Linked DNA regions of Homo sapiens. The protein of the gene in region 2 interacts with the protein of the main gene of each other region in a pairwise test. Each region holds a gene or a part of one and is shown on either strand. Other genes may lie near its edges.

Region 1 (8,200 bases), on a different chromosome or scaffold from region 2:
GTAACTGAAACTACTAAATATAAGAGAAACAATTCTGTACGTGAGATGTATAAGAAAAGCAGAGTTTGTTTTTCTTTTGAACAACATTTCGTGTAGTAATAAGAGATTGTAAAATATTTTTATCTTCTGAGTAAACAGAAAAAAAAAAAGGGGAAAGAGGGAGAGACATTCTGTTTGCCTCACGCTGTCTTTAGTAGGTCTATTGATTGCTTGGGAAACTAAGTCTCCTCTCTGTCATAGTAAAGGTTTTTGGTTTGGGAAATCTCTGAATTACCAATTTGATTAAATGAATGGCTTATTTTACAGTGACCTGTGGTCCTATTTTGAGATTGTTTTAAGCCTCTGATATTTGACTTCCCAAAACCAAATTTCAAGTCCTAACATTAAGGGTTTTTTTCACCTGAACTAACTTGGATATAACAAATAGGAACCCCGAGAAGTCCAAGGGAGATGTACGAGGCTTATGTGGTATGTTAAAATCATACAGGAAGCATTGTCAAATGTGGAATGCTGTTGGAGTTATATTGGTATAAATGTATTATTAACATATGTTCCAAAATTGTATGAGATTCCTAAAAATTCTGACATGTCTTGGTATATGTTATCAGTCGTGATTACGATTATATGTTAAACTGTTTTAACCTCAGAAGTAACCAAATTCCCTGCCAATCGCGTCTTCACCCATGGCTACTCTAAGTCTTTTGTCATCTGCAGAAAATTACTGTTTTACTTTGATTCTTCTCAAAATGCAGTTTAAGGCCGGGCACGGTGGCTCATGCCTGTAATCCCAACACTTCGGGAGGCTGAGGCGGGTGGATCACTTGAGGTCAGGAGTTCGAAACCAGCCAGGCCAATGTGGTAAAACCCCGTTTCTACTAAAAATACAAAATTAGCTGGGCATGGTGGCTCATGCCTGTAATCCCAGTTACTTGGGAGGCTGAGACAGGAGAATCGCTTGAACCTGGGAGGCGGAGGTTGCAGTGAGCCAAGATCGCACCACTACACTCCAGCCTGGGCAACAGAGCGAGACTCCATCTCAAAATAAATAAATAAATAAAATAAAATAAGGTACAGTCCAAAATTTGCATTTTCTTCAAGGAAATTCATGGAAAGGACATTGACAAGTATACAGACTTCCGATAACCTGGGAGATCACACCAGTAGACCAGATAAAAACTTCCAGGACTCTTATTTAAAAGCTGATGCATTCATGAGGATTGTTAACCCAACATCATACAGAAAAAAGCGGCCGGGCGCGGTGGCTCATGCCTGTAATCCCAGCACTTTGGGAGGCCAAGGCGGGCGGATCACGAGGTCAGGAGATCGAGACCATCCTGGCTAATACGGTGAAACCCCATCTCTACTAAAAATACAAAAAAATTAGCCGGGCATGGTGGCAGGTGCCTGTAGTCCCAGCTACTCGGGAGGCTGAGGCTGGTGAATGGCGTGAACCCGGGAGGCGGAGCTGGCAGTGAGCCGAGATTGTACCACTGCACTCCAGCCTGGGCGACAGAGGGAGACTCCGCCTAAAAAAAAAACAAAAAAAACCCCAGCAAATTACATAGAACTGAACTGATAGAGGCCTGAAATGCTTTTTATGATTTTTTGTTGTTATCGAAACCTTGCTGACTCTTTTTATATTTTGTTTTCCAGAGTCAGAAAACCTTTTTCTTTTTGAGCTATTTATAGCTATAGCAATTGAGTGACATATACTTTTGTGAGCAAAACTGAAATATTTGTCTTTTTCTCTACCTGATTTCTCAAAAATCTGGAAGCGATTCATGAGTATTCTTATTTTATGGCAATGTAGTTCTTTGCATGAGTTCAGTAAGAATCTGTTGTCCTTGTAACAGGACACAATTGGAGACCCTGGTTATTCTACCAAGGCTTGGACTGGGATGACGTATTTTTGGATATGACGAGACTGCTTTGAGGAATCGAGGTTCGCTTTATAGAGCCAATAAAAAGCCCCTTGGGATGACTGGACTGGTGCCCTGTTTACATAGTTCCCTTAAAAGGTTCTTGGCCTTGAGGTAAGGAAAGAATGTCACTTTCCGACAGATCCAGGAACTTCAAGATAGTTTGGGACCTGGAGGACAGACATTCACCCCCCCCCCCAAATTCATACAGGTATTATACATACACTGTGATGGGGAGCCACTGGCTTGGCTTCCTAGACATGGGAAGTGTTTGTTTTGTTTAGAGACAGGGTCTCGCTCTGTCACCCAGGCTGGAGTGCAGTGGTGCGATCATAGCTCACTGCAGCCTCAATCTCCTGGACTCAAGCGATCCTCCCATTTCAGCCTCCTGAGTAGCTGGGACTACAGGTGAGCACCACTATGCCCAGGTAATTTTTAAATTTTTTGTGGAGACAGGGACCTCGCTATGTTGCCCAGGTTGGTCTCAAACTCCTGGGCTCAATGAATCCTCCCACCTTGGCCTCCCAAAGTGCTGGGATTACAGGCATGAGCCACCATGCCCAGCCCTCAAGTGGCTTTTAAAGGTCTATTCTGACCCTCTTGTAGTTCATAAGCATGATGATTGCCTCATGTGTAGGGTCTGTCTCCTTCAAACGCTGTTATGACGCCAGCACATTACCTGTCTGATGTGGGGAAAAAAAGTCTGAAATTCCTTATGGCAAAGTTCCAGCCAGTTTAGAAAGGAGCCTATATGGCCAATCACCACTGTTGTACTTTAGGCAAATAATCAGGCCAAATATAATCCTAAAATTTATTTTACAAGTAAATTGGTCTTACCAAGATTTATCTTTGGTAGAAATGGGGAAGTAGAGAAAAATTATGTTTCAGAGAAAAACTACAGCATACCTGTTACTGGATTCTAGCCCTGATCATTGTATTTTTTATTTTCCTACAATCTGGACTAAATCCTGAACAATCTTCTGGCTACAAGTCTCAAAGAAGAACCTGGCTGGGCAGAGGTTCACACCTATAACCCCAGCACTTTGGGAGGCCCAGATGAGAGGATCACTTGGGCTCAGGAGTTCGAGACTAGCCTGGGCAAGGTGTCAAGACCTAGTCTCTACCAAAAAAATTTAAAATTAGCCGGTCCTGGTGGCAAACACCTGTATTCCCAGGTACTCAGGAGGCTAAGACAAGAGGATCATTTAAGCCCAAGAGTTCAAGGCTGCGATGAGTGGGAATCGTGCCTCTGCACTCCAGCATGGGTGACAGAGCAAGACCCCATTTCTAAGTAAACAAATAAATAAAAAGAAAGAAGAACATGGATTTTAGTTTCTTCATGTTTTTAGTTGTCTCCCTAATGGAACAGGTTTGTTTTTTTCATCCTGGCATACAAATTGGTTATAGTCCTATGTGTTACTTCTGAGAAAATTAAAATTAATGGTGTTTCTAAAAACTAGAGATGATTCAACAGGTGACAGCAGTTGTATAAATTAATGACTTCACTGAGACCTCATGTTTGCCACCCTGTAATGCCATTCCAATTCAGTTTGTGGTGTTCTTAAAAAAAAAAAAAAAAAAAAAACTCCCTGAAATGTCTCCTCCTTCCCTGCTTGGCATGGGACAGGACTATGTGGGAATGAGCCTTCCCAGCAAGAGGGGACACTCTGACCCTCAGATTTTGATAATCAATGCTTTCAAGAAGAAAGATTTTGATCAAAAGGGGGGCAAATGAGAAAGAAAAAAATCATTTATCTGAGGAATGTAAAGCCCTTTTAAACTGTGGGCCCAGAAAGCTTGATGTTAAGTGCCAGAAAGCATTTCAAATGAAACCGCAGCCCCTCACTACCCCTCGAGCCAAGTAACTATCCACTGATGACACCAAGCCGTGGTCAATCGCGAACCAATGCCATTTCTACAAGCCAGTGAGCTCCTGGGCAACGTTCGAAACCACCTGCTCTCCGATGGGCTCTGTTTTCTTTAAAAACCTGAGCCTCTGTTTTGTTCTCCGTTGCACCTGGTGACCCAGGCCGCCCTCGACCTCTGTGCCTGAATAAACCCACCGGGCACCACATTCTGACCCTTTTAATTATTTTAGGTTGACAACTAATACAGGACTCAGCGCCGGTGGACAGGAAGCCAGGGCCCCTGCAGGGAGGCGCCCGTCCCTTCTCCCGGGGAGGGCAGGGCGGGCGCGCGCGCGTCCCACCGGGAGCGCCTCCTCCTCGGCGAGGGAGCGAAGGGCCTCCGGGTCCTGTGATGTCCGTGCTCGGAAGGCGCGGAGGAGGGCAGGCCCTGCGGGACAGGGCGGCGGGGTCGCCGGGGTCGGCTCAGCTCCCCGCGGCGTCCGGCTGCTCGGCGGCCTCCGGAGCGGGGCCCTGCGGGAGAACGCACCTTCCCCGCCCCATCGGGGCCTCAGTTTCCCCACCCCGGGAGAGCCGGCGGCCCGCCCCCGGCTCACTCCCAGCTACGGCCCTCACCTCAGGACGCGCACCCGGCCCGGCCCCGCTCTGCCCCCGGCGCCCAGACCGCCCACCTGGCCCGCGCGGCCCGGGGTCGCTCACCTGCGGGGCCGGGACCGCCCCACACCGTCCACGCCCGGCGCGGAACCTTGGCCCGACCGCAGCCGCTGGCCCGGAGGGCTTTATCCGGCGCACCAAGGCCAGCGCGGGCGGGGCGAGGAAGCCGGGCGCACAAAGCTCCCGGCGGAAGTCCGGCCGGGGCGGGGGCCGAATGGGAGGTGGGCGAGGCCTGAGGGTCTGGAGTGGGCGTAGCCGTTTCTGGCGGGGGCGTGGCCTTACCGGGGAGGGGCGGGCGCCTGCCGCCAGGGGGCGCCGCGGGGCAGCGGGGTTGCACCTGGCGCTTGGCGCCCGCACCTCTGCCCGCCTCGGAGACCCCGCAGCCCCGCGCCGCCGCCTGGCCCCGGCCCCGGCCCCTCCGCGGGATCCTGGCCCCTCCTCGAGCGCCGCCACCGGCCGCCATGGCCTCTCTGGGGGACCTGGTGCGCGCCTGGCACCTGGGCGCGCAGGCTGTGGATCGTGGGGACTGGGCCCGCGCCTTGCACCTCTTCTCGGGCGTCCCGGCGCCGCCCGCCAGGCTGTGCTTCAACGCGGGCTGCGTGCACCTGCTGGCCGGGGACCCCGAGGCCGCGCTGCGGGTGAGCGGGGCGTGGGGAGGCCGGTGCGGGCGACGCCTCCGCCTCGAGCCCCTGGGGAGGGCCCAGCGCCCCTCCCCGACCGTCACGGGGTCGCCCTGCCGCCCCCGACCCAGCGAACGCCCCGGCAGGTGGGAGCCGAGCAGGGGGGCCGCACCTGAGCTAAGCGAGGCCGCGCTGGGGGGCGCGGCGGTCACCGGGAGAGGCCGGGGCCCGAGGGTGACTCACACCGGGAAGGGGGAAGCTGCTGGGCTGGGTCAGGCCCGAGGGACCGCCCTGCCCTAAGGGGAAAGCGTTGCGCCTGTGGTCATGGCCGGGAGACCGGGTCAGTCTCCTCCTCAGAGCCCTCAGCCCTCCCCCAGCCCACTCCCCGAAACAGCCAGGAGTCCAGGGTGCCAGGGTGCAGCGGCCGAGGCCCTGCACGGAGCCCGGTGCCCTTCTCGTGCCCCCTCGCGTTCCGGGGCCGCCTGTTCCTGCGCATCCCAAACGCCAGCGCTGCCCACCCCCGCTCAGTCCCAAGCACCCCGCAGAAGCAGGCAGGTGCCCACGGTTACTGAAGGCTCGGTGACAGCAGTGATTTAAAGGAGAGGGAACTGCGCGCTGTGGGAGGGTCTCCACGCCCCTGACTGGCAAAATATCCCCCTTGGAGGAGACTGGGCAAAGCGCATGAGACCCCCCTCTCTTGTGTCTTAAAGCTGCGTACAAATTTACAATCACCTCCATAATGATTTCATTTTTTTGTTTGTTTCAAAGATGGAGTCTCGTTCTGTCACCCAGGCTGAATGGAGTGCCGTGGCCCAATCTTGGCTCACTGCAACCTCTGCCTCCCGGGTTCAAGCAATTCTCCTGCCTCAGCCTCCCTAGTTGCTGGGAGTACAGGCGCCCACTACCACGCCTGGCTAATTTAGTATTTTTAGTAGAAACGGGTTTCACCATGTTGGTCAGGCTGGTCTTGAACTCCTGACCTCAGGTGATCCACCCTCCTCGGCCACCCATAGTGGTGGGATTACACATGTGAGCCACCTTGTCCGGCCCACAATGATTTCATTTTAAAATGTTATCCAAGAAAGGGAATGTAATCTTTAGACACCAGGTGGTTCAGCAACAAATCCTATGTCCGGGGCTAACCCAGTCACTTGTGCTCTTGTGCCTGGTTTCACTACAGAGAGGGGACGCAGTGAAAGTCATACGACTAACCCACAGCATATGCATGTTAGGAATATGGGAACTTAGGAAAGCAGATGGAACAGCTATGATTCATAAAGCCGATCACGTGAGGGGCAGCCCAGGGTGCAGAGGGTGTCGCTGGAACTGCTGTCTCTTGTTAGGAGCCTTGCGTGACGTTTGGGGCAGACAGGTGGGTTCTGCTGGCCCTGAGCCGCCACCCCACATCAGGGCTGCGTGCCTGTGCTCAGCCGCCACACTTCACACCTGTGTGAACTTGGTTCAACGACAAGCCCCCACTCAGCCAGATTTGTGAAAGAGACCGTAGCACCCTTCCTGTCACACACATTTAACTGATGGCCACGGTCCCTGTTCAGAACCTTCTGTGTCCTCCTGAGTCTGGTTTAAGGAAGAGCTGTGCTTTACACACAGATAAACACATGAAGACGTGTGTTGTTCTTTCTGATTCTAATAGATTTCTAGGGTGTCATTTTGCATGAACTATCAAAAAAGGATTTTTATTTTATTTATTTTTTGAGACGGAATCTCGCTCTGTCTTGCAGGCTGGAGTGCAGTGGTGCGATCTTGGCTCACTGCAACCTCTACCTCCCGGGTTCAAGCGATTCTCCTGCCTCAACCTCCCGAGTAGCTGGGACTACAGGCGCGTGCCGCCATGCCCAGCTAATTTTTGTATTTTTAGTAGAGATGGGGTTTCACCATGTTGGCCAGGCTGGTCTCAAACTCCTGACCTCAGGTGATCCGCCCACCTCAGCTTCCCAACATGCTAGGATTACAGGCGTGAGCTAACATGCCCGGCCTGTAATGCAGTTCTTTAGCTGCTGACTCTGGGATCTGGACTGCGTTATCTCGTCTCCAGTATGTGACAGCCAAGGTTGCCTGAGGTCAGGAGTTTGAGAATGTCTTGAACCCAGAGGCGGAGGCAGCAGTGAGCCAAGATCGAGCCACTGCACTCCAGCCTGGGTGACAGAGCGAGACCCCGTCTCAAAAAAAAAAAAAAGGATTTTTAAAAGACAAAAATCTTGCATAACCCCACTCCCCAGAGGTAACTATTATTAACATACTGGAACACTTTTTTCTGGCCTCTGTCCTTGTGCTCATGGTAAACACATTGGTTTTAGCAGCACCTCAGTGGGCTCTGCGCCTTGGACGGGTTGGGGTTGGGTGGGCTGTGGCAACCTGAGTGGCGACAGCCCTGCCCAGGCAGGGGCTCCGAAGGTTCCTGGACAGGAGCAGGAGGGGCTGTGGGGGGTCCCCAGGGGCTGACGGAATTCCGTGGCCCTGTCACCCATCACGCTGTATCTGTGATGCTGCGTGACCAGGTTACAGACCTTGGCATCCCGTGGGCATTTTTGTCCCCAGGCATTTGACCAAGCCGTGACCAAGGACACCTGCATGGCGGTTGGCTTCTTCCAGCGAGGAGTGGCCAACTTCCAGCTGGCAAGGTGAGTACAGGGGTGCCTTGTTCCTTCTCTGACGGCCCTTTGTCTCCCTGCAGAGTCCACTCCTGCACCTCCTCCTCCTCCCTCTCCATCCACTCCCTCCTCTTGCCCACCCCCTCCTCCATGGTTCCTGGCTCCAGGGAAACCTGAGACTGTGGCCCTCGCCTCTGCTGAGCGCCACCCTTGGACACAGGTCGTGGGGTCCTCACTGCTTACCTGGGCTCTCTGCACCATGTCCCTTCCTAAAGGAGGAATGAGGGAAAGGAGACCATCGGGACTGCAGACCAGGCCATGCCTCGGCCTCTCTGCTAGACACTCACAGGCCCCATCCCAGGAGGGCAGGCTCTGTGGGGAAGTGGATCACAGTCCCGAGAGCCTCGCAATCCTGAAATATCAAAACCCCTCAAATCTAAAATCCCAAAAAATATAATTCTAGAAAAAATAAAATTCTGTAAAAGATATTTATTTACTTTTTAAAAATTGTTTTGAGAAGGAGCCTTGCT
Region 2 (7,010 bases):
GAACTAAGTATAAAAGAAAACATAATAAATTATACTTTCTCTTAATTATAAACTTCTGCACATTAAAAAAATTAAGAAAATTAAAAGGCAAGACATAGATTGGGAAGAACTGTTTGCAAGACATATATTTAAAAATTGGATTATCTAAAAATTTAACTTTATAAAGTTAAATTCTAAAATACCCAATGGTATTGACATTTTAAATAATTACCTAAAAAAATGAAAGTATATGTCCACAAAAAGTCATTTACAAATGTTTACAGTAGCTTTACTCATAGTAGTGAAAAACTGGAAATAACATAAATATACATCAATGGATAAATGAATACAAAATTATAGCATATTCATACAATAGAATATTGTTTCACAATACAAATGAACAAACTACTAATATACACTACATGGATCCCTTTGAATAATGTGCTGCCGAAAAAGTCAAATGCTAAAGAAGTATAGGTACTTAATTATTCCATTTCTATGAATAAGCAAAGCTAATCTGTAGTGACAGAAAGTATATCAGTTATTGTTTGGTGGGTAGGTGCATGAAAGGAAAATTGACTACAAAGGTTAATGGACGTTTTCTTATATTTACGTCTTTGTTGGTTCATGGATATAATCATTTGTCAAAACTCATCAAATTTTGTACTTAAAATGGGTGCATTTTATTATATGTGAGTTATACATCAATGAAAAAGACATTAAAAAGAAAAAATGTTAAATGGGTAAAAGGTATGAATAGATAATTTTTAAAAAGATACAAATCTCCAAGAAGTTCATGAAAAGTACTCCATTAGTCATCAGGAATATGCAAATTATGACCACTGTGACATATTATTCCATATTTATTACAAATATCTACCCTATCACTCATTAGTTTCACTCCTGGGTCCGAATCCAGAATAAATAAAAACATATATCTAATAAGACTTGTGCAGGCTTCTTTTTTTTTCCCCACATATAAGTGAGATCACATAGTGTTTGTCTTTCCTTATCTGGCTTATTTCACTTAGTATAATGTCCTCAAGTTTCACCCATGTTGTTGAAAATAGCAGTATTTTCTTCTTTTTTAAGGTTCAATAATATTCTATTGTATGTTTATACCACATTTTCTTTATCCATTTATCTGTTGATAGATAATTTGTTACCACATATGGACCATTGTTAATAATGCTGCAATGAACAAGGAAGTGTAGATATCTCTTTAATATACTAATTTCATTTTCTTTGGATATATACCCAGCAGTGGGATTGCTAGATCAGATGGTAGTTCTCCTTTTAACTTTTTGAGGAACTTCCATATTGTTTTCCATAATCCATAATGGCTGTATTAAATTACAATCCCACAAACAGTGTATAAGGGTTCCCATTTCTCCACATTCTCACCAACACTTGTTATCTTTTATCTTTTTAACAGCCATTCTCACAAATGTATGGTAATATCTCCTTGTGATTTTTATTTGCATTTCCCTAATGATTAGTGATGGTGAGCATCTTCATATACCTACCTGTTGAGTGCAATAATGGTTACCATGAGTGGAGGATGAGACGAAGGGAAGATAGGCAAAGGGTACAAACCTTCAGCTATAAGATGAGTAAATGCTAGAAACCTAATGTACAGCATTGTGATTATAATTAAGAATTATTATAATTAATAATAATTGAAATGTGTTAAGATAGTAGATCTCAAGCATTCTCACCACAGCCAAAAAAAGGTAACTATGTGATATGATGAATACTTCAATTAGCTTGATTGTGGTAATCATTTCACAATGTCTACATATGTCAACACATTTCATGAGAAACCCCAAATACATGTGATTTTTATTTGTCAGTCATACCTCAATAAAGCTGGAAAAAAGTTAGACATAAAAAATAAAATTAGGAGAAAAATACTTTGTGGAAGAATCTTTATAGCTGCTTTAGCTATAAGAGGACCAAACTAGAAACAAACAAACTACCAATCAATGTAATAAACAAATGTAAAATAAGCATATAATGCAATTATACTTACCTTTAAAAAGAATTGTACTACTGACTTAAAAACCCACATTGAAATGCTTGAAAAAACATTCTGCTGAGCCAGAGACGTCAGTCTGACAATATAATATATATGGTATCATTCTATTCATATAAAGTTCATGAATGGCCAACTATTCTTTGAGGACAGAAATCAAAACAGTGGCCCCCTGTGGAGGGAAGATTGGCTGGAAAGGATGTGAGGAAACATTCCAGGGTGAAATAAATGTCCCGTGCCCTGACTGAGGTGACCATGACATGGTTGTATATACCTGTTAAACTCATTGATTTTAGAAACTTGAATTTAAGAACTCAAGATTGGTTACAATTTACTCCATGTTGATTTTATCTCAAATAATTAAAAAAAAAGCCAAGACAACTGAGTAATTATAGCCTTTAATACCCCTTTTCTTTCATGGATAATCTGGCTAATAAACATATAGTTCTGAATTAATGTTAAAACCTGACTTCATCTACTTTTCTTTGAAGAAAGTTATTTTAAAAATCATTCTTTTAAATACAATTTTATTATTTTTTAGGTATTAGAACATCTAATCCATAGTTCACTCATCATTGTCAGCATCCAAAGAAGTAAAATGACATTTATTGTTTTGTTTAGTAATACTTGAGATTTTTCACTTAAGAACTAATTATTATTATTATCGTCATTTGTATTTCTTCCCAATAGCAAGGAAATATTTACTGAATACTGGTGAGAAGCCAATGGAAGAGAACAAGAATATCTAAGAGAAGCAGTTGTTATTAGTTGAAAGGTTTAAGACCTACCAGACAACAGAGAATGCACACACCCTGCGAGAGCCTCACCTTGTGACATTTGTTCTTTACCTTTTTATTTTGCCTTTTAGCATGGCATGCTGAGCACCTCTGAGTTTTCAGGGAAGGAGCTGACAGAAACAGGAACAGAATAGCTGGGAGCTCCAAGATTCACATTCCTTGCAGGAGCTGGTGTGAGTTTTTGAGGCTGCTGAGTAACAGGAACCGCAGTCTTTGTTGCCTGGATGTATCCTGGCAACCTGTCAACAAAAGGGACGGGACTGAGTTCTCTAGTAACTGATGGGAAACAGAGCAAAGTAGGTATGGATTTCAGCTTTCTTTTAAATTGACTCCAGGAACTTTACCGATGGACTGAGCAACCAACAGGGACAGATAAATTTAAGTCACAGGCTCTTCTTGATGTAGAAACACAGCGTTTTATTTTAAAGAAGAAAAGAAAACAATATTTACTGATTATCTTATTGATCTTTTCTAGGGACTTTAAAAAATACTGTAACGGTTAATATTGAGTGTCAACTTGATTGGATTGAAGGATGCAAAGTATTGTTCCTGGGTGTGTCTGTGAGGGTGTTGCCAAAGGAGATTAACATTCCAGTCAGTGGACTGGGAAAGGCAGACCCACCCTCAATCTGGGTGGGCACCATCTAATCAGCTGCCAGTGTGGCCAGAATAAAGCAGGAAAATGTGGAAGGACTTGACTTGCTGAGTCTTCTGGTCTTCAGCTTTCTCCCATGCTGGATGCTTCCTGCCTTAGAGCATTGGACTCCAGGTCTTCAGCTTTTGGACTCTCGGACTTACACCAGTGGTTTGCCAGGGGCTCTCAGGCCTTTGGACACAGACTGAAGGCTGCACTGTCGGCTTCCCTACTTTTGAGGTTTTGGGCTTCCCTACTCCTCAGCTTGCAGATGGCCTATTGTGGAACTTTACCCTGTGATCATGTGAGTCAATACATTTTAATAAACTTCCCATCATATACACATCTATTCTATTAGTTCTGTCCCTCTAGAGAACCCTGACTAATACTAATACCATCTATATAGAAGAGCTTGGGCCAGTCGCAGTGGCTCACACCTGTAATCCCAACACTTTGGGAAGCTGAGGCGGGTGGATCACCTGAGGTCAGGAGTTCAAGACCAGCGTGGTCAACATGGTGAAACCCAGTCTGTACTAACAATACAAAAATTAGCCGGGCATGGTGGCACACACCTGTAATCCGAGCTACTTGGGAGGCTGAGGCAGGATAATCGCTTGAACTCGAGAGGTGTAGGTTGCAGTGAGCCAAGATAGCGCCGTTGCACTCCAGCCTGAGCAACAAGAGCGAAACTCCATCTCAAAAAAAAAAAAAAAAAAAAAAAAAAAGAAGAAGAAGAAGAGCTTGGTCTCCTCTAAAACAGGGAAGATGGATAGTCTCCATGGCTCTCAAAGCATGTTCTATGTTTTGGTCTAAAAGGCAAGCAACCACAAGATGTAGAAGCTATGCTTAATCTATTTTTCTAACATGTCCTAAAACATAGAAAATATTTTAAAAACTAAGGCCAGTATTTAAAAATATATCTGAAGCAGTGTTTTCAAGATTCGTATTTCAAAATACTCTGAGATATTAAGATAATTGTAGTACAATTCTACAATTAAATATTCTGCAAGCATTAAAGCTTATGAGGCAACAGTTTATTGACCTGGGAAAAAGTTTACAATATATTGCTAAATGAAAAAGAGAAGCTACAAAACAGAATAAATAGTATAATCTCATCAAATTCTTTGTGTGTGCTCATGTGCACACAAACACACAATTAACTCAAAGAATATACATCCCAGTGTTAACAGTGGCTACCTATGAGTGGTGAGATTAAGGAACATTTTTACTGAATGTTCCTTACTGGTTAGCAAAAAAAAAAAAAAAAAGAACAAAAACTTGACCTCTAATATTCCCCAGCCCTGCTCCTTGTCCCCAGATAATGTAATTGGGATATGGAGGTAATTCACAGGACTCTTAATTCTGCTGAAGTGACTCTTCAGGCCACACAGTCTAGAGATCCCAAGGGACAGTAACGTTTCACATCCTAACTTGCAATAACGCTCTAACTATTCTAGATATCTAATTTATGATATAAAATATTTCTAATTAAGATGCTTCTGAAATCATACGATACATATACAAATAATAATACATGCATACAATGACATAGAGCTGATATAATATCAGTGAGTAAATGTTGAGATGGCGGCAAGAAAACCCTGTTTTACCTGTTGCCTTTTACTGACCTGTAGGCCCCTAGTTAACACACTTTTCACTTTACACAAACTGCATGTTTTATCGGCCTTATTGTGAACTAAATGTGATCTTTCTCTAAAGAAAGTGCCCAATAAATAAACATCATCCCAAATGCACACCCAATATTCAGTCCAGTGGCTGGCTATTTGGGCCAGATGGCAGAAGAGACAGGAAGTGTTGGCCTATGACAGGACAACCTCAGGAAAACATCACGAGAGTGGATATTTCTGAGCTAAAGCAGGGCAGAGTCTCTATCCTGGCTGGAGCAACTCTTAGGAGGCCCAAGAATAACAGAGCTTGCAGGCTTTGTTAGCTGTAGCTGATGGTGCACTCACGGCCGTCTCTTCCCTGGTGCTGTGGCTGAGTTGCCAGCTGCTTTTCTGTATTCATCGAAGCTGCTTCTAAAACTGGCTGGAGTGGAGCCTTTGTTTCTTCCCAAATTCTGGACTCATTTTTAATTCATGGGTTTATAGTTTCAGTCAGAATTGAACTTCCTGGTGTTCAAATGTATTTCATCTTGGCAAAACAGGCGTTCCTGGGTGCTCTGTCTCTGTCTCCTTCTCCCTGTCTCTGTGTCTCTCTGGTCTTTCCGAGCGACCAAAACTTTTAAGCTGCTCGTATTTTTTTTTTTTTTTAAGCATGCGCAGAGGCATCTTCGACATCAAAAAGCTCTTACAACACACAACCTTTTGAAGATTTAAGTGTAAATGAAGCAGAAACATATGGATTCTATTTTCCATAAATCACATACGGTCCTAAAAAATCAAGGAGGGTATGTGTTTTGCATGATGTATTCTGTTTAGTTGAACCCAAAACATCTGAGGCATACTTGGAGGTTGATGAATCCAAAATATTTACCCATCCCTATTTATAACATTGTGGGGGAGCCCTTGATTTATGGTGACAACTAAACTGCTCACATCTGTTGAGTGGGCAACCAGCAACCAGTGTGAGCTTCAAAGATAACCGTGTTCCTTCTTCTGTTCTGACTCCAGGCATTCAAGTCAGACCCAGATCAAAGACACTGAAGCCTTTACTTGAGCTGGTCTGGTTTGCTCTTGCTTGAGCTTTTCTCACCTAAAACAATTGCCAGTTATTTCAAGTTATGTGATATCCAATCATGCTTGTGTCACTGTGGGATGATGCCAGCCTCCAGCAATAATCCAGATCTGACCCCTTGTGGGAGCAGCCCCACCACAAGGAATTCTGGATTATTTTCCCTTCATAAAACCACAGCTGTTGTGCCTGCACAAGCCCCTGACTTTTTCATTGAAGGAATGAATCACATTTTCATGGAGCAGGAGAAATGCTTCTCCTTGTTGGTATCTCTGCCTATCCTCAAGACTCTTCACTGATGCAAAGCCCAAATCTTACTTTGCAAGCTACCAATAATCCTTTGGAGTTTATTTAAACTTGGCAGAGACTACATTCTGTGAGAAAAAAAAATTGCAATGGCAGCAGCAGGGATCCAAACAGGATGTTTGTGAAGTCTGGCAAAATAGGTGCACTGAGTGCCTTGTTCTTGTCTACCTAATTATTGTTTACTTCATTCTTATCGCCTAACTCCGAAACAGCAAGTTCCAGCCACCTGACATCCGTTATCTCAAATCTTTTAACCATCCTACAAGGTAGGCATTAGTATCCTTGTTTGACAGATTAGAAAACTGAGGCTCAAGAGCATTAAGCAACTTGCCCCATTGACAAGGCTATTCCAAAGCAAATCTGGGATGGACATGTGTATCTTTCTGGTGCCCAAATGGCTTCCCTTCGCTGCCTTCTGCTAGATCTTGCTGCCATATTCCCATACCCAATAAATAATATTTTCTATGACTTGCCCAGACTGAGTAAACATTTAAAACCTAGACCTTCATGTCTCCGAAACAGGAGGCTTGAAGAAACACTGAAGAAACATTATATATAACACTGA
Region 3 (8,057 bases), on a different chromosome or scaffold from region 2:
GCTACGGAGGAGGCTATGCCCCTGAGGTTCTCTCTCAGTCTGGAACTGCTCTTATTATCATCACACACCATGTTGCTTCCTGCCTCTGTGTATTTGCACACATTTTTCCCCTGCACAGAAGGCTCTTTCCTCCTTTCAGTAACACCTTCCACCCCCATACACACACACTCCCCCATCACCCAGCAAAATTCTACTCAAACTTTAAGAATCAGCTCACGTGTCATCTCCTCCGAGAGGCCTGCCACAGCCCCCAGGGCTGGGTCAGGGACCCTCTGCTGAACTCCCATGAGTCCCTGTGCTCCTTTCTCCCTGGGCATTGCACAGAGATAGATTTATCGTAGAACAAATCAATCTTAAGCATCAGGGCCCCACACTTGCACAGGCCACTTCCAGGTCTCTGGTTATTGAGCCTGGTCTATTTGAAGAATGTTTAAGATTTGTCGCTGTGCCAAGAGAAGTTAAAATAACCTGAAATCTTACAGCTCACATGTAAAAGAAACTAGAAATTTTCCCAAGTTTGACAAAAATCTTAAAATGTACATTACTAATAATGAGTTGTGAAATTGAAACTTTTCTAAAATACTAATAATAAAAAATTTTACTCAACTGAATTGAAATCAATTGAATTCTTTGTGTTCTCTCTAGAAAATATAAAATACTTGTCATATGAAGAGTTCTATAAACTCTTTGATATCAAAAAATGTAGAAAAATTAGTAGAGAGGTGAGTCATGTAATTAATAAGAATATTTTATTTTGGCAGGGCGTGGTGGCTCATGCCTGTAATCCCAGCACTTTGGGATGCTGAGGCAGGCGGCTCACCTGAGGTCAGGAGTTTGAGACCAGCCTGGCCAACATGGTGAAACCTTGCATCTACAAAACAAAAACAAAACAACAAAGTAATATTTTATTTTTCTGGGTTAGAAGATGTTTGTGACATTTGTCAGTTTTTAAAAATTTGTAATTTGTAAATTAGATTTCTAATTTTAAGGAAATACTTTCATCAATAAATCAACAAATAAGTAAAGTGTACAATTCAATGGCTTTTAGTATAGTTTCTTCTGATTTGCTCCTTGGCTTTCTCCTTAGCTTTCTCACTGTGTGTTCACATAGTTGTCCCTGTGTGTACACCTCTCTGGTGTCCCTCTTTGCCTGTGTCCTCATCTCCTCTTATTATTATATTTTGTTGTTTTTTGTTTTTGAGACAGGGCTTGTTCTGTCACTCATGCTGGAGTGCAGTGGTACAATCATGGCTCACGGCAGCCTCAACCTCCTGGACTCAAGTGATCCTCCCTCCTCAGTCTCCTGAGTAGCTGGGACTACAGCCATCACACTCAGCTAATTAAAAAAAAAATTTTTTTGTAGAGATGGGGGGTCTTGCTTTGTTGCCCAGGATGGTCTCGAACTCCTGGCCTCAAGTGATCTGAGCCATTGCACCGAGTTCTAATCTCCCCTTCTTTATAAGGACATCAGTCATAACGGATTAGGGCCCACCCATGCAACCTCATTTTATCTTAATTACCTTTTTAAAGGCTCTATCTCCCAATACAGTCACATTCTGAGGTACTGGGGGTTAGGGTTTCTACATATGAATTTGGGGGGTGGTGGATACAATTTAGCTCATAACAGCAACCATTACCTCGTCTAATTTTTAGAACATTTTCGACACCCCCAAAAGTAGCCCTGAAGCCATTTAGAAGTCACACTCTATTCTTTCCCCATCCAAGCCCTGGGCAACCATTCATGTATTTTCTGTCTCTATAGATTTACCTATTCTGTATATTTCATATAAATGGTATCATACAATATGTGGTCTTTTTTGACTGGTCGGTAATTATACGTCCTCTTTCGTTCCTGATTTCAGTAATTTGAGTCTTCTTTCTTTTATTTCTTCCTCAGTCTAGCTAAGGGTTTGTAAATTTTGTTGATCTTTTCAAATAACTGACTTGGCCAGTTGCATTTGCTCACACCTGTAATCCCAGCATTTTGAGAGGCGAGGCAGGTGGATCGCTTGAAACCAGGAGTTCAAGACCAGCCTGGGCAACAAAGTGAGACACCCCCTCCCAACACACACACACACACACACACACACACACACACACACACACACAACCACACACACACACACACACACACACTAGCCAGGCATGGTGGCCTATTCCTGTAGTCCCAGCTAATCAGGAGGCAGAGGCAGGAGGATCCTTTGAGCCCAGGAGTTTGAGGCTGCAGTGAGCAATGTTTGTGCCACTGCATTCCAGCCTGGGCAACAAAAAAAGACTTCATCTCTGAAAAAAAAATAACCGCCCAGGTCCGGTGGCTCACGCCTGTAATCCAAACACTTGGGAAGGCTGAGGTGGGCAGCTCACTTGAGGTCAGGAGTTCAAGACCAGCCTGGCCAACATGGTGAAACCCTGTCTCTACTAAAAATACAAAAATTAACGGGGCATGGTGGCATATGCCTGTAATCCCAGCTACTCTGGAGGCTGAGGCAGGAGACTCCTTTGAACCTGGGAGGCAGAGGTTGTAGTGAGCTGAGATTGCACCACTGCACTTCAGCCTGGGTGACAGCACCAGACTCCATCTCAAAACAAACAAACAAACAAACAAAAAACAACAACTGACTTTTGGCTTCACTGTTTTTTCTTTTCTCTATTGTTTTTCAATTCTCTATTTCATTTATTTCTGTTCTATTATTTATTATTTCCTTTCTTATGCTTGCCTTGGGATTACTTTGCTCTTCTTTTTCTGGTTTTGTGAAGTGGAAGTGTAGGTTATTAATTTGATATCATTCTTTCATTTTTTATTTTTTTGAGACAGGGTCTTGCTCTGTCCCCCATGCTGGAGTGCAGTGGCACAATCACGGCTCACTGCAGCCTTGAGCTCCCAGGCTCAAGCAATCCTCCCACCTCAGCCTCCTGAGTGGCTGGTACTACACGCATATGCCACTATGCCCATCTAATTTTGTTTGTTCGTTTGTTTGTTTGAGACAGAGTCTCACTGTGTCGCCCAGGCTGGAGTGCAGTGGAGTGATCTCAGCTCACTGCAACCTCTGCCTACCGGGTTCAAGCGATTCTCGTGCTTCAGCCTCCCAAGTAGCTGGGATTACAGGTGTGTGTCACCATGCCTGGCTAACTTTTGCATTTTTAGTAGAGACAGGGTTTGTTCATATTGACCATGCTGGTCTCAAACTCCTGACCTCAGGTGATCTGCCCACCCAAAGTGCGGGAATTATAGGTGTGAGCCACCATGCCTGGCCTAGTTTTCAAATTTATTTATTTATTTAGTTTGAGACAGAGTCTCACTCTGTTTCCCAGGCTGGAGTGCAATGGCACCATCTCGGCTCACTGTAACCTCCGCCTCCCGGGTTCAAGCCATTCTCCTGCCTCAGCCTCCCAAGTAGCTGGGATTACAGGTGCTTGCCACCAGACCTGGCTAATTTTTGTATTTTTAGTAGAGACGGGGTTTCACCATCTTGGCCAGGCTGGTCTCGAACTCCTGACCTCAAGTGATCTGCCTGCCTTGGCCTCCCAAAGTGCTGTGATTACAAGCGTGAGCCACCACACCTGGCCTAATTTTTAAAATTGTTTTTAGAGATGGGGTCTCACTATGTTGCCCAGGCTGGTCTTGAACTCCTGAGCTCAAGCCATCCTCCCGCATCAACCTCCCAAAGTGCTATGATTACAGGCATGAGCCACCATGTCCGGCTCTTCTTTTTAGATATGCATGTTTACAGCTAAAGATTTCCCTCTAAGTTTTGCTTTAGCTGCATCTCATGCATTTTTTTATGTTTTTGTTTTCATTCATTTAAAAGTGTTTTCTAATTTGCTTTGTGATTTTTTTCTTTGACCCATTTATTGCTTAGGAGTGTGTTAATTTCCATATATTTGTGAATTTTGTAAGTTTCTTTTTACTGATTTTTAACTTCTTTCCATTGTGGTCAGACAACATACTTTGTATGTTCAATCCTGTTAAATCTATGGAGGCCTACTGTATGGCCTAGTGTATGATCTGTTCTGGAGAATGTTCTTGTGTACTTCAGAAAAACATGTACAGTTATCCCTGGGTATCCGTGGGAGACTGGTTCCACGACCTCCGGAGGATACCAAAATTCATAGATGCTCAAGTCCCTGATATAAAATGGCATAGTATTTGCGTATAACCTATGAATATTCTACTGTATACTTTAAATCATTTCCAGATGTGACTCACGCCTATAATCCCAGCAATTTGGGAGGCTGAGGCAAGTGGATTAAACCCAGGAGTTCGAGACCAGCCTGGGCAACATGGCGAAACCCTGTCTCTACTAAAAACACAAAAATTAGCTGGGAGTGGTGGTGGGCACCTGTAATCTCAGGTACTCGGGAGGCTGAGGCACGAGAATTGCTTGAAACCAGGAGACGGAGGTTGCAGTCAGCCGAGATGGCGCCACTGCACTCCAGCCTGGGCCACAGAGTGACACTCGGTCTCAAAAAAATAGATAAATAAATAATTTCCAGGTTACTTATAATGCCTAATAAAGTGTAAATGCTATGTATATAGCTGTTATACTGTACTGTTTAGGAGAATAATGTCAAGAAAAAAAGTATACACATGTTCAATGCAGATGCAATTTTTTCCTGAATATTTTCCATCTGAGGTTAGTTGAATTCACGGACGTGGACTGCCCCCCATAGGGAGAGCTGATTGTATTTTACTGTTGTTGGTTGCAGTATTCTATACAGATGTTAGGATGCTTTTTTTAAATGCAGATTTTTAAGGCTATACTCACTGAGTCCTCTGCCCCAGGGCCTGGAATCTGTATCTGTAATAAGTTCCCCACATATTTCCTCCGCAGTACCCACGGATCCGGAAACCATGGCCCCACACGTCCTTCAGGTCTGGTGTCCTTTGATTTAAGTGAGTAACTCTGGTGGTGTCATCGATCGCTCTGACAGATTTTTCTTTTGCTCTAGTCTTGCTGCCAGGTCTGCGGAAAAGAGAATCCTGTGTTCTCAGGCTCGGCTTGCGTCTCGTTCTGCCTGGGCCGAGCTACAGAGGGATTGGGCCGCCGGGACGTCACGTGGACTGGGGCCGGATAATGGCGGGCGCTGCAGAAGATGCGCGAGCTCTTTTCCGGGCTGGGGTCTGCGCGGCCCTGGAGGCCTGGCCGGCCTTGCAGGTCAGTGGGGCCAGGGCCAGGGCAAGGTCAAGGTTAGGGCCCGGGGCAGAACAGGAGTTGGTTGGGCTAGGTGCCTGAGGCTTGGCTAGGCGGCATAAGAGGAGTTGGCTGGGCGGCGTAAGCGGCCTCCAGGCTACTCCAGGTCTGCTCCCAAGCTGACTTGGTGGGCTTGGACCTGTGTTTACAGATCGCTGTGGAGAATGGCTTCGGGGGTGTGCACAGCCAGGAGAAGGCCAAGTGGCTGGGGGGTGCAGTGGAGGATTACTTCATGCGCAATGGTGAGTGAATGTGAGGCGCCGCGACCCGCCTGTGTGGGGGTGTGGAGAGGAGGAGCCCCATCCCGCAGAGCCTGCATTTCCTCTCGAGCAGTTGTGGATTGGTACCTAAAGGTGAGGTGGAATGAATTCAGCTTTTAGAATCAGAATCCTGGATTCCAGTGCTTTACGGGCTGTACCACTGACTCGTGGGATTACTCTGGACAAGGCAGTTTACCTCCCTGAGACTCAGTTTCCTAGTTTCTAAAATGCGTATAAAAGTATCCACCAGAGCGCTGTACAGTAGAAATATTATGCTAGTCACATATAATTTAAAATTTTTTAGTAGCCACTTTAATAAAGCAAAAAGCAGATGAAATCAATGTTAGTAAACTCGGTGTGTATGAAATATTTCAACATGTAGTCAGTATAAAACATTGAGATATTTTACATTTTTTAGTATTAAGTTTTCAAAATCTGGTATTTTACAGTTTTAGCACATTTCGATTTGGCCTAGCCATATTTCAAGTGCTCAGTAACCACCTGTGGCTGTTTGGACAGCAAAGATCTACACTGTAGGCTCGTCTTGAGGGATATACAAGAACAAGAGGCCCAGTAGAGGGCCTGTTGCATAGTATGGTTTTTAAAAAAATCTTCATTCAATTTCTAGCTTTGGAGATGACATTAGGCAGAGTCATCTCTCTCAAGAAAGTATACTATCCATTGAGGATCCACACACGTAAATAGTTACAACATTGATAGATTTTCTGATAAAGAGGAGCTCAGGGTGCATGGGGTAACAGGATGGGGAGACAGCTTCTTAGTGGAGGTGGTGAATTGGGCTGGGTCTTAGTGAGAAGGAGTTAACTAGGTGGGGGAAGCAGAGAGAGCAACACTCAAGTTCTGTGGCATGAGGGTATAATGTGTTATATTTGGAAAGTAGCAGGGAGCTCAGTATTGGAGTATGGGCGTGTGTGCGTGGGGGGTGGAGGAGTGGTAGAGAATGAAGCTGGGGTGTGGGAAGCCCCCTTGAAAAGCATAAGACATGGAAGCCCTTATGTGCCTTTGATTTTATCATTTAGGCCAGTGTTTGCCAAAATTCATGCTAACTAGTTCTGTTAGATGTTCAGTGAAGAAGCTTCTCCAGTTACCTTATGTAAGAAAAACTCTTGTTCTGCTCCCACTGAAAAGTCTTAACACTCATGAACATATTAAAGGCTTGGGTAAGAATAAGAACCACTAAAAAACCTGTTTGCTTTTGTTTCTCATTAGCTTTCTATGGATAGTGTCCCTTAAGACCCAGCAGAACAGATATTTCTCAAAGGCAAACTGTGAAACACTGCAGTGGCTGGTAAAAATTCGTGGGCAGGTTCTAGGGTGAGAAATAGGATGGGATTTGCTGGCTAGAAAGTTCAGGAAATAATCAGTATGAAGCATAACCTGGAGAGGGAAAGACTGATGAGAACGCTGTTTTTGTCTAGAAACTGATGAGGCCTGAAGTAGGACAGTGGCAACAGGCATGGAAAAGAAGGGGTGGAATAGGGCCTTGGAGATTGGTTGGCTGTAGACAGGGAGGGAAAAAGAGGCAAGTTCCTGGTTTGAGTTGATGGGTGGATTAGGTGTCTTTTCTCGGAGTAGAGGAACCCTGGAGGATGCGAAGCAGGTTTAAAGAGTAAGGTGATGAGTCTGGCTTTAGATATGGAAGATCTGCGGCATCTGTGAAACGTCCAGGCACAGAGTAGTCTCAGTTGGAGATAAATTCGGGGGATATTAAGTTTGAGTGGTAGGGAAAGCCAAGAGTGTGGATGAGCTCTCCCAGAGAAAGCACATAGAGGGGAGAGGGCTAGGAGCTTTGTGGGAGACTTTCTTGAGTTACTGTCTAATTCAGAAAAAGTAGAGCATAGGCCCATAGGTAACTGAAGCCCAGAGAGGAAGGTGGCTCAGTCAGAGTCACACAGTAGGATGTCAGTGTCAAGGCTATGATGATTTCATCATTGGAATTACTATGTCCATTTCTTCTTAACTATCCCATTGGTCTGTGGCTTCTTTTATCAGTGGAACCACAGTTGTGAAGGTTCTCTTCACTTCAAAAACTTCAGCTTTTGCATGATAGAAATTAACATGGATCATGGATCTTCACTGTGCTAGGCATTGTGTTGGATGGTTCCTCATAACAGACCTTTGAGGAGGCCACCATTAGCCCCACTTTACAGATGAGAAAACTGAGGCTCAGAAAGAAGTAGCTTGCTCAAGGTCTCATAGAGGGGAGGCTAGTTAGAATAGTCCAGATGAAAGAGGGTGAGTGTAGGGCTGGGAGTTGTGGAAAGAGGCCTTGGTAGGATGGAAGAGATTGGAAATGAGGTATTAATATTTAGTGGTTCTTTAAAAAATTATGTTAAAACCTGGAATGCAGAACACTTTAGCAGATAAAAGGCAGGATGGAAGAGATTGGAAATGAGGTATTTTTAGTGGTTCTTAAAAAATTGTTAAAACCTGGAATGCAGAACACTTTAGCAGATAAAAGGCTCACTGTGCCTTTACCCACCCAGTTGCAGATCCACCAAGTAGATATTGAAGAGCAGTGGGCAGGGGTGATGAAGTTGGCTGGTCTTTGACCCAAGGGCCCTGTCCTTTTCTACTTAGCTGA
Region 4 (7,870 bases), on a different chromosome or scaffold from region 2:
CAACGTGCTCTCGGACGGTTCACAAATGTGTGTGTGCAGTGCCAAGTTTTTTAAAAAGCATCAAAGTCTTTATCACGATACTATCTGTATAAATTAAAAATAGATGCAAACAGATATAGGGTTCCCATTTGGCTTGAAGATGTAAGTAGACGGGTGATGTTTGATCATCATGAATGTACCTCGTGCCTCTGAACTGGATACAATAAAATGGTTACAGGCCAGGTGCGGCGGCTCACACCTGTAATCCCATCCCAGCACTTTGGGAGGCTGAGGCAGGCAGATCACTTGAGGTCAGGAGTTTGAGACCAGCCTGGCCAAGACAGTGAAACCCCATCTCTACAAAAATATAAAAATTAGCCGGGTATGGTGGCGGGCGCCTGTACTCCCAGCTACTCAGGAGGCTGAGTCAGGAGAATGGCGTGAACCCGGGAGGCGGAGCTTGCAGTGAGCCGAGATCACGTCACTGCACTCCAGCCTGGGTGACAAGAGTAAAACTCCATCTCAAAAAAAAAAAAAAAAAAAGAAAAGAAAAAAATGGTTACAATGGTAAATTTTAAACTGTGCATATTTTATCACAATAAAAAAAATTTGGGCTGGGCGCGGTGGCTCACTCCTGTAATCCCAGCACTTTGGGAGGCCGAGGCGGGTGGATCACAAGGTCAGGAGTTTAAGACCAGCCTGGCCAAGACTGTGAAACCCCGTCTCTACTAAAAATACAAAAAATTAGCCGGGCGTGGTGGCGGGAGCCTGTAATCCCAGCTACTCGGGAGGCTGAGGCAGGAGAATTGCTTGAACTCGGAGGGTGGAGCTTGCAGTGAGCCGAGATTGCACCACTACAGCTTGGGTGACAGAGCAGGACTCTATCTCAAAAAAAAAAAAAAAAATTGAAAAAGAAAACATACAAATACAACAACTACACAGACGTGAAGCAGGAGCGCAATGTGTGAGCAGCTGTTGGCCTCACGGGTTGCAGGACCTCAGAGCTCTTGTAACTTTTTGGTGAGTTTAAAATTATTTTGGGCCGGGCGCGGCGGCTCACACCTGTAATCCCAGCACTTTGGGAGGCCGAGGCGGGTGGATCACGAGGTCAGGAGATCGAGACCATCCTCGCTAACACGGTGAAACCCCGTCTCTACTAAAAATACAAAAAAAAAAAATTAGCCGGGCATGATGGTGGGCGCCTGTAGTCCCAGCTACTTAGGAGGCTGAGGCAGGAGAATGGCGCGAACCTGGGAGGGGGAGGTTGCAGTGAGCGGAGATTGCGCCACTACACTTCCAGCCTGGGTGACAGAGCGAGACTCCGTCTCAAAAAAAAAAAACAACAAAAAAAAGAATGCCGGGCACGGTGGCTCACGCCTGTAATCCCAGCACTTTGGGAGGCCGAGGCGGGTGGATCATGAGGTCAGGAGTTTGAGACCAGCTTGGCCAACAGGGTGAAACCCCGTCTCTACTAAAAATACAAAAATTAGCCAGAAGTGGTGGCGGGCGCCTGTAGTCCCAGCTCCTTGGGAGGCTGAGGCAGGAGAATGGCGTGAACCCCGGGAAGCAGAGGTTGCAGTGAGCTGGGATCACATCACTGCACTCCAGCCTGGGTGACAGAGTGAGACTCTGTCTCACAAAAAACAAAAGAAAAGAAAAGAAAGCAGCAGGCTGGCTGTGGCCCCAGAGACACATACAGGGCCACACGGTGGCAGAGTAGAATCCAGTGCAGTTCTCGGCACCGTATCATTTGTGCAAAGGAAAGACACATGTAAACAAAATGACGATACACACACAGCCAAACAGTAGACATGTGCGCGGCCTTGTGGTGCCCAGAGGAAGAGGAGAGGGGCAGCCTCGCTGCAGCCATGGCCGTGACCGTGTGAGGCGATGGACAGCCCTGTGCCCGAGACACCTGCACCTTTGAGGGAGACGTAGTCAACCAGCTGGGCCCCCGCCCTCCTGAGCTCTGTCCTGCCTGGGGGCCTCTGCGCTGGCTGTTCCCTCTGCCAGGTGCCTCCCTGACGTCCACGCGCTGGTGCACACACAGCCGACCCCACACCAAGCATGCACCACACCCCCCGGGCACCTACAGAGGCTTTCCCGGTGCTCTCCTCGGCCGCCGCCACGCGTGCCACCTTGGAGATGATGGGCGCCACGTTGGTGGGGCCGTAGAGCTGGACCCTGGGCAGGCAGTTCTGGTAGGCCTCCACCACGCCCTGGATGCCTGTGGGGGGCAGGGGGTGAGCCCGGCCCCCCTGCACTCCCCTCCCCAGGCCTGCCTCGAGCTCCTACCTTCACACTCATCGTCCTCAGGGTTGAAATTGATGGCAAAGTCATGGGACACCTGGGTGGGAACAAGAGGGCTCAGTCAGCTGCTCGTTGCAACACACCCCACTGGCCCCATGTCCCTCGGTCAGCTGCTCCCCCCGTCCCCAGCCCCCATGTCCCCCAGTCAGCTGCTCCCCCCGTCCCCGCCCTCATGTCCCCCGCCTACTAAAGAGGGCTCGGTCAGCTGCTCCCCCCGTCCCCGGCCCCCATGTCCCCCAGTCAGCTGCTCCCCCCGTCCCCGGCCCCCATGTCCCCCAGTCAGCTGCTCCCCCGACCTGGCCCCCATGTCCCCCACCTACTGAGAGAGGTAGGCTTGGAGTTTCTAGGGGAAGCCAAACCCATGGGTGACCATGTTCTGCAGAGTCATGAAACAGAGAGGGAGGCAGACCTCCCTGGATCCAGCAGTGCCTGAGGCTTACATTAGCCAATAAATCCCCACACACCATTTTTTCTGCTGAAGCCAGTTGAAGTTTTTTGTTGTTTTCTTTTTTCTTTTTTAAAACAGAGTCTTGCTCTACAGGCCAGGCTGGACTGCAGTGGTGCGATCTCAGCTCAGTGCAACCTCTGCCTCCCGGGTTCAAGCAATTCTCTTGCTTCAGCCTCCCGAGTAGCTGGGATTACAAGCATGTGCCACCACGCCCAGCTAATTTTTGTATTTTTGGTAGAGATGGGGTTTCACCATGATGGCCAGGCTGGTCTGGAACTCCTGACCTCAGGTAATCGGCCCGCCTCGGCCTCCCAAAGTGCTGGGATTACAGGCGTGAGCCACCACGCCTGGCCGAAGCTAGCTGAATTGTTATGTGCAATAGAGGATTCCACACTAACGTCCTTCCCTATCTCCTGAAGGAACACGGAGTTGGCCTCCAGACACCCCTCAAGCTAACAAGTCCTAGGAGGCCAAAGGCCAGCCTCTCTGGCTAGAAGGCTGGGGTTCCCGCTTTGCACCCCAATCCCATCCTACAGTCTCCGGTTCCCAGCAGGCAGCCAGGGCTCCCTGGGCCAGGCCGTCCTCTGCCTGGGAGGGCACGAGAAGGGCACAGCTCTGAGGTCTCAGGTTCTGGGCTCTCCTACCTCATACTTGGGAGGGATCCGGGCTCCAAACCCCAAAGCGGAAAACCTCTTGTCACTGGAAGAGAGGCAGGAGGTCACCAGGAGGCCCTGACCTCTTGTGGCTGCAACAGGGGCCACTTCTAGGGAGACATGACTGGCGCCCAAAAGACTGGGGGTGCCCAGGCCTGGTACCACGGCAGTAAGCACCTGCCAGAGGTGGGGAACCGAGGCTCAGGGCAGCAGAGGCACAGGCCTGTGTGCAAGGGGACACGGTCCTGCCGCCCGCGAGCCTGCCTCCCAACTCCACGTTTGTGTACATGCTGTCCCCCTGCAGACGCCTCCCCGGGGGCTCTCAGACCACGGGAGGGGTCCTGTGGGGCCAAGGAACCCACTGTGGCCCTCACCAACCCAGAAAGAGAGGTCTGTAGGGTAGGGAGCTCAGGGCATCCTCTCCCAAGCCCCAGGCCAGGGGTCTGTGTTGTGGTAAGAAGCTCAGAGCACAGGGTTTTGTGCCGGGCCCTCCCTGGTAAAGCATACGCGGGTGAGCCCCAAGCCTCTGTGACTTCGGTTTGCTATTCTGGCAAAGCGGGACACAGACGTCCCCCCAGGACCATGTGCAGAGTCTATGCGGCAGCCTCCAGTAGGGCTACCCAGCCCTTCCTCGCAGAGTCTCTTTTTTTTGAGACGGAGTCTTGCTCTGTCACCCAGGCTTGAGTACAAAGGTGTGATCTTGACTCACTGTAACCTCCGCCTCCCGGGTTCCAGTGATTCTCCTGCCTCAGCCTCCTGAGTAGCTGGGATTACAGGCATCTGCCACCACGCCCAGCTAATTTTTGTATTTTCAGTAGAGATGGGGTTTCACCATGTTGGCCAGGCTGGTCTCAAACTCCTGACCTCAGGTGATCCACCCGCCTCGGCCTCCCAAAATGCTGGGATTACAGGCATGAGCTACCGCGCCCGGCCCCTCACAGTCTGACAAACTCACAGTGCCCACCTCATGGTGCCCCGAGGCCTGACCTGGAGCCCAGGGGGGTGAGGGAAAACCGGCCGGGTGCACCTGTCATAGCTGACCTGGAGACCAGGGGGGTGAGGGGGAAGACGGCCAGGCGCACCTGTCATAGCTGACCTGGAGACCAGGGGGTGAGGGGAAGGTGGTGGGCGCACCTGTCATAGTCCTGGCAGATCTCGCCCACGGACACCAGTGCCTTCAGGTACTCGTTCGGCTGGTAGGGGTTGATGTAGTGCAGGGAGCAGCTGTTCCGCGGGTCTCCATTGGAGGCGGTGAAGTCAATGGCCACCTGCAGTGGGCCGGGAGCCAGGAGCTGTGCTGGGCCGGGGCTCCCCGAACCCGCTCCTGACAGGTAGAGAAACCACGCCCAGAGTGGCCAGGACTCAGGGTCAGGGGTCGCGTAGGTGGGTAGGGCTGGGGGGCTGCTGTTGGGGCTGACCCACCTGCTACACAGGGCCAGGAGAGGTCTCCTCAAAACCTGCCAGCCCCTAGGCTCCCTGGATCTCCGGGAGGACACCCCACCAGGATCACCCTGGCCTTGTGGGGGCCCCGCCCATCCTTCTTAGTGGCCGCCCAACCCCTCTACCACCCTCCCCGGCAGGGCCTAAGTGGACCAAGCCTGGTCTGGGTCCCCCCACGTTTCCCACTTGCTGGCTTCTCCCAAAGCCATTCTGGGGCTCGTTCAACAAAACACGAACCAGCGCATCTGCAAATAACACGCGGGTGACACGGGGGCCGTGTATCTGTGGGTGACACGCGGGTGACACGGGGGCCGTGTATCTGTGGGTGACACGCGGGTGACACGGGGGCCGTGTATCTGTGGGTGACACGCGGGTGACACGGGGGCCGTGTATCTGTGGGTGACACGGGGGCCGTGTATCTGTGGGTAACACGGGGGGCCGTGTATCTGTGGGTGACACGCGGGTGACACGGGGGGCCGTGTATCTGTGGGTAACACGGGGGGCCGTGTATCTGTGGGTGACACGGGGGCCGTGTATCTGTGGGTAACACGGGGGGCCGTGTATCTGTGGGTGACACGCGGGTGACACGGGGGCCGTGTATCTGTGGGTGACACGCGGGTGACACGGGGGGCCGTGTATCTGTGGGTAACACGGGGGCCGTGTATCTGTGGGTGACACGCGGGTGACACGGGGGGCCGTGTATCTGTGGGTGACACGGGGGCCGTGTTTCTGTGGGTGACACGCGGGTGACACGGGGGCCGTGTATCTGTGGGTGACACGGGGGTGCTATGGGGGTGACACGGGGTGTGCGTATCTATGGGTGACGCGGGGTCTGCGGGTGACATGGGGGTGACACGGGGTCTGTGCCGGGCTCCTTGGATGACACGTAGAGACTGTGGCTGGTTCACTCAAACGCTCACTCCAGTTTCTCCTCGTTCACGTTTTGTCTGTTGTTAAATGTGTTTGTGGAAGGTAAGCCCTGGTGATGTCACCTCCCAAGGCGGGCTTGGGGCTGCTTCCTGAACCCCAAGCCCGTTTCCTCGCCTGCGCAAAAGGGAGGACCCCCAGGAGCCGCGCATGGAGACATCGGCTCACGGGGAACCGCCAGTGCCCTTTCACCCGCCAGGCTGGGACCCCTCGGGAGCGGGGCGGGGGCGGGGGCGGGGGCGGGGCCACGGACTGAGGGGGCGGGGATGGGCGGGGCCACAGACTGAGGGGGCGGGGATGGGCGGGGCCACAGACTGAGGGGGCGGGAGGGGCGGGGCCACGGACTGAGGGGGCGGGGATGGGCGGGGCCACAGACTGAGGGGGCGGGGAGGGGCGGGGCCACGGACTGAGGGGGCGGGGCGGGGCGGGGCCACGGACTGAGGGGGCGGCATGGGGCGGGGCCATGGACTCACGGTGAAGTGGATCTGGCAGCCGCCCATGATATAGTCCAGGAAGGAGTACACCCTGTGGAACTTCCGGCCGGCGGAGTCAGCGTCCACCCCCGCCAGGGACACTGAGGCCAGTGCCAGCTGGGATCCAGGCCTGCCTCCCGCAGGCAGCCCAGTCCCTCTGGGGTGCCACCCTCCTCTCCTCTCCCCCATCCTCTCTCCCCAACCTCGCCCTTCCCCGTCTCTCAGCCCCTCCCCAGACGTGCTGGGGCCCACCAGGCCTCTGGTTGAGGGTCCATCCAACAATCAGAGGGAGGCAGCGGAAGCCCCTCTTGTGGGTGGGGAGGCTTCGGGCACAGCCACCTCTCACCTTGAGGTCAGCCAGGACGACCACTCCTGAGTTCTTATAACTGCGTCTCTTCTGCTTGTATTTGGGGTTCACACAGTCCCACTGGGCCTGGGGCAGGAACAAGCAGAGGCCCCCCAGAGTGGTGGCTCTGAACACCTACCAGGGAGACCCTACCCAAGACCATCCCCAATAGCGACGGCAGAGGGCCCCGTGGTGGGGAGGGGAGGGGAGGGCACTGCTGCAGGGCAGCAGGAAGGGGCAGAGTGGGTCATACGGGAATGAAGAGGGATGGGAGTTGCATCCCCCACCCGGCATGGCCCTGTCATTAAGCCCAAGGACACTGAGGCCCAGGGACGGGGGAGGAAGCAGGGCCCAGGGTGGCCTCCCCACTGCACCCTCACCCGGCTGCTGTGGGCTGGGCAGACACAGGGGAGGGCACCCCTTGGCCCCACCTCCCACCACCCCTGTGCCCAGACCCAGATGGTGCCTGAAATGTCCAGCTGAACCTGATGGGGGCCACCCCTGCTATGACCCCTCAGGAGCCAGCACCAGGGTCCACCATCCTCAGCCTTCTCTGGTTATAACAAGTCATTGTCACCACTCCCCACAACCCCATCAGGACAGTGGGACAGGGTTTCACAGCCTCTGTGGCAGGGCCAACACAGGCGTAGCCCAGGTGTGCCCCCGACTCACCTGCCCCTCCCCAGAGGCCCCCCTCACCTGCCCCTCCCTGAATGCCCCCTCCCCCTGCTAACTGCCCCTCCCTGGAGGCCCCCCTCACCTGAACCTCCCCAAAGGCCCCCCCAACCTGCTCCTCCCCAGAGGTGCCCACCCACATGCCCCTCCACGGAGGCCCCTACCCCACCCCCCACCTCCTCACCTGACACTTCCTGGAGGTACCCCCCCAGTCCTGCTCACCTACCCCTCCCCGAAGGCCCCCCTCCACCCCCACCTGACCCTCCCTGGAGGACCCCCTACCCCGTCCTGCTCACCTGCCCCTCCTCAAAGGCCTTCTGCATCTCCTCGAAGGTGGTAGAGAATTCTCCGATGAAGTCGTGCTTTCCTCGAGAGTCGTAATCCCAGACCAGGCACTGGGGAGCCCAGTCCTCCTCAGCACTGCTGTCTGGGGGCCCCAGGACCCTCCCACCCGAGCCCAGGTGTCTCCATCGCAGCCCACATCCAGGCCACCCCCTCACTGCCCCCTTGGTCCATCCCGTCCCCCACCTTTAGAGGCCTTGTCTCCTCGCAGCTGCAGAGGGAACTCAGAGAGACTTTGAAGGCCTCCCACACCGGGTTCAGGTTGTTCTTCACCACC

What was found.
Region 1: the proteins of ZNF474 (region 2) and NOXA1 interact in binary tests that used the Homo sapiens proteins (3 or more experiments, as listed by UniProt).
Region 3: the proteins of ZNF474 (region 2) and TSR2 interact in binary tests that used the Homo sapiens proteins (3 or more experiments, as listed by UniProt).
Region 4: the proteins of ZNF474 (region 2) and CPNE7 interact in binary tests that used the Homo sapiens proteins (3 or more experiments, as listed by UniProt).

The regions. Positions count from the first base shown.
Region 1 is NC_000009.12:137,418,631-137,426,830, forward strand, and holds the start of NOXA1 (NADPH oxidase activator 1), read left to right. Parts: upstream 1-4,762; 5' UTR 4,763-4,899; coding exon 4,900-5,076; intron 5,077-7,615; exon of another isoform or gene 7,616-7,617; coding exon 7,618-7,700; exon of another isoform or gene 7,701-8,200.
Region 2 is NC_000005.10:122,125,536-122,132,545, reverse strand, and holds the start of ZNF474 (zinc finger protein 474), read right to left. Parts: upstream 3,001-7,010; 5' UTR 2,863-3,000; exon of another isoform or gene 2,705-2,862; intron 1-2,704.
Region 3 is NC_000023.11:54,435,347-54,443,403, forward strand, and holds the start of TSR2 (pre-rRNA-processing protein TSR2 homolog), read left to right. Parts: upstream 1-5,057; 5' UTR 5,058-5,075; coding exon 5,076-5,156; intron 5,157-5,343; coding exon 5,344-5,434; exon of another isoform or gene 5,435-5,545; intron 5,546-8,053; coding exon 8,054-8,057. UniProt on the Homo sapiens protein: May be involved in 20S pre-rRNA processing.
Region 4 is NC_000016.10:89,585,463-89,593,332, reverse strand, and holds part of CPNE7 (copine-7), read right to left. Parts: intron 7,870-7,870; coding exon 7,780-7,869; intron 7,647-7,779; coding exon 7,548-7,646; intron 6,664-7,547; coding exon 6,577-6,663; intron 6,291-6,576; coding exon 6,231-6,290; intron 5,778-6,230; coding exon of another isoform or gene 5,739-5,777; exon of another isoform or gene 4,659-5,738; coding exon 4,525-4,658; intron 3,437-4,524; coding exon 3,382-3,436; intron 2,327-3,381; coding exon 2,275-2,326; intron 2,207-2,274; coding exon 2,073-2,206; intron 1,136-2,072; coding exon of another isoform or gene 1,133-1,135; exon of another isoform or gene 1-1,132. UniProt on the Homo sapiens protein: Calcium-dependent phospholipid-binding protein that may play a role in calcium-mediated intracellular processes.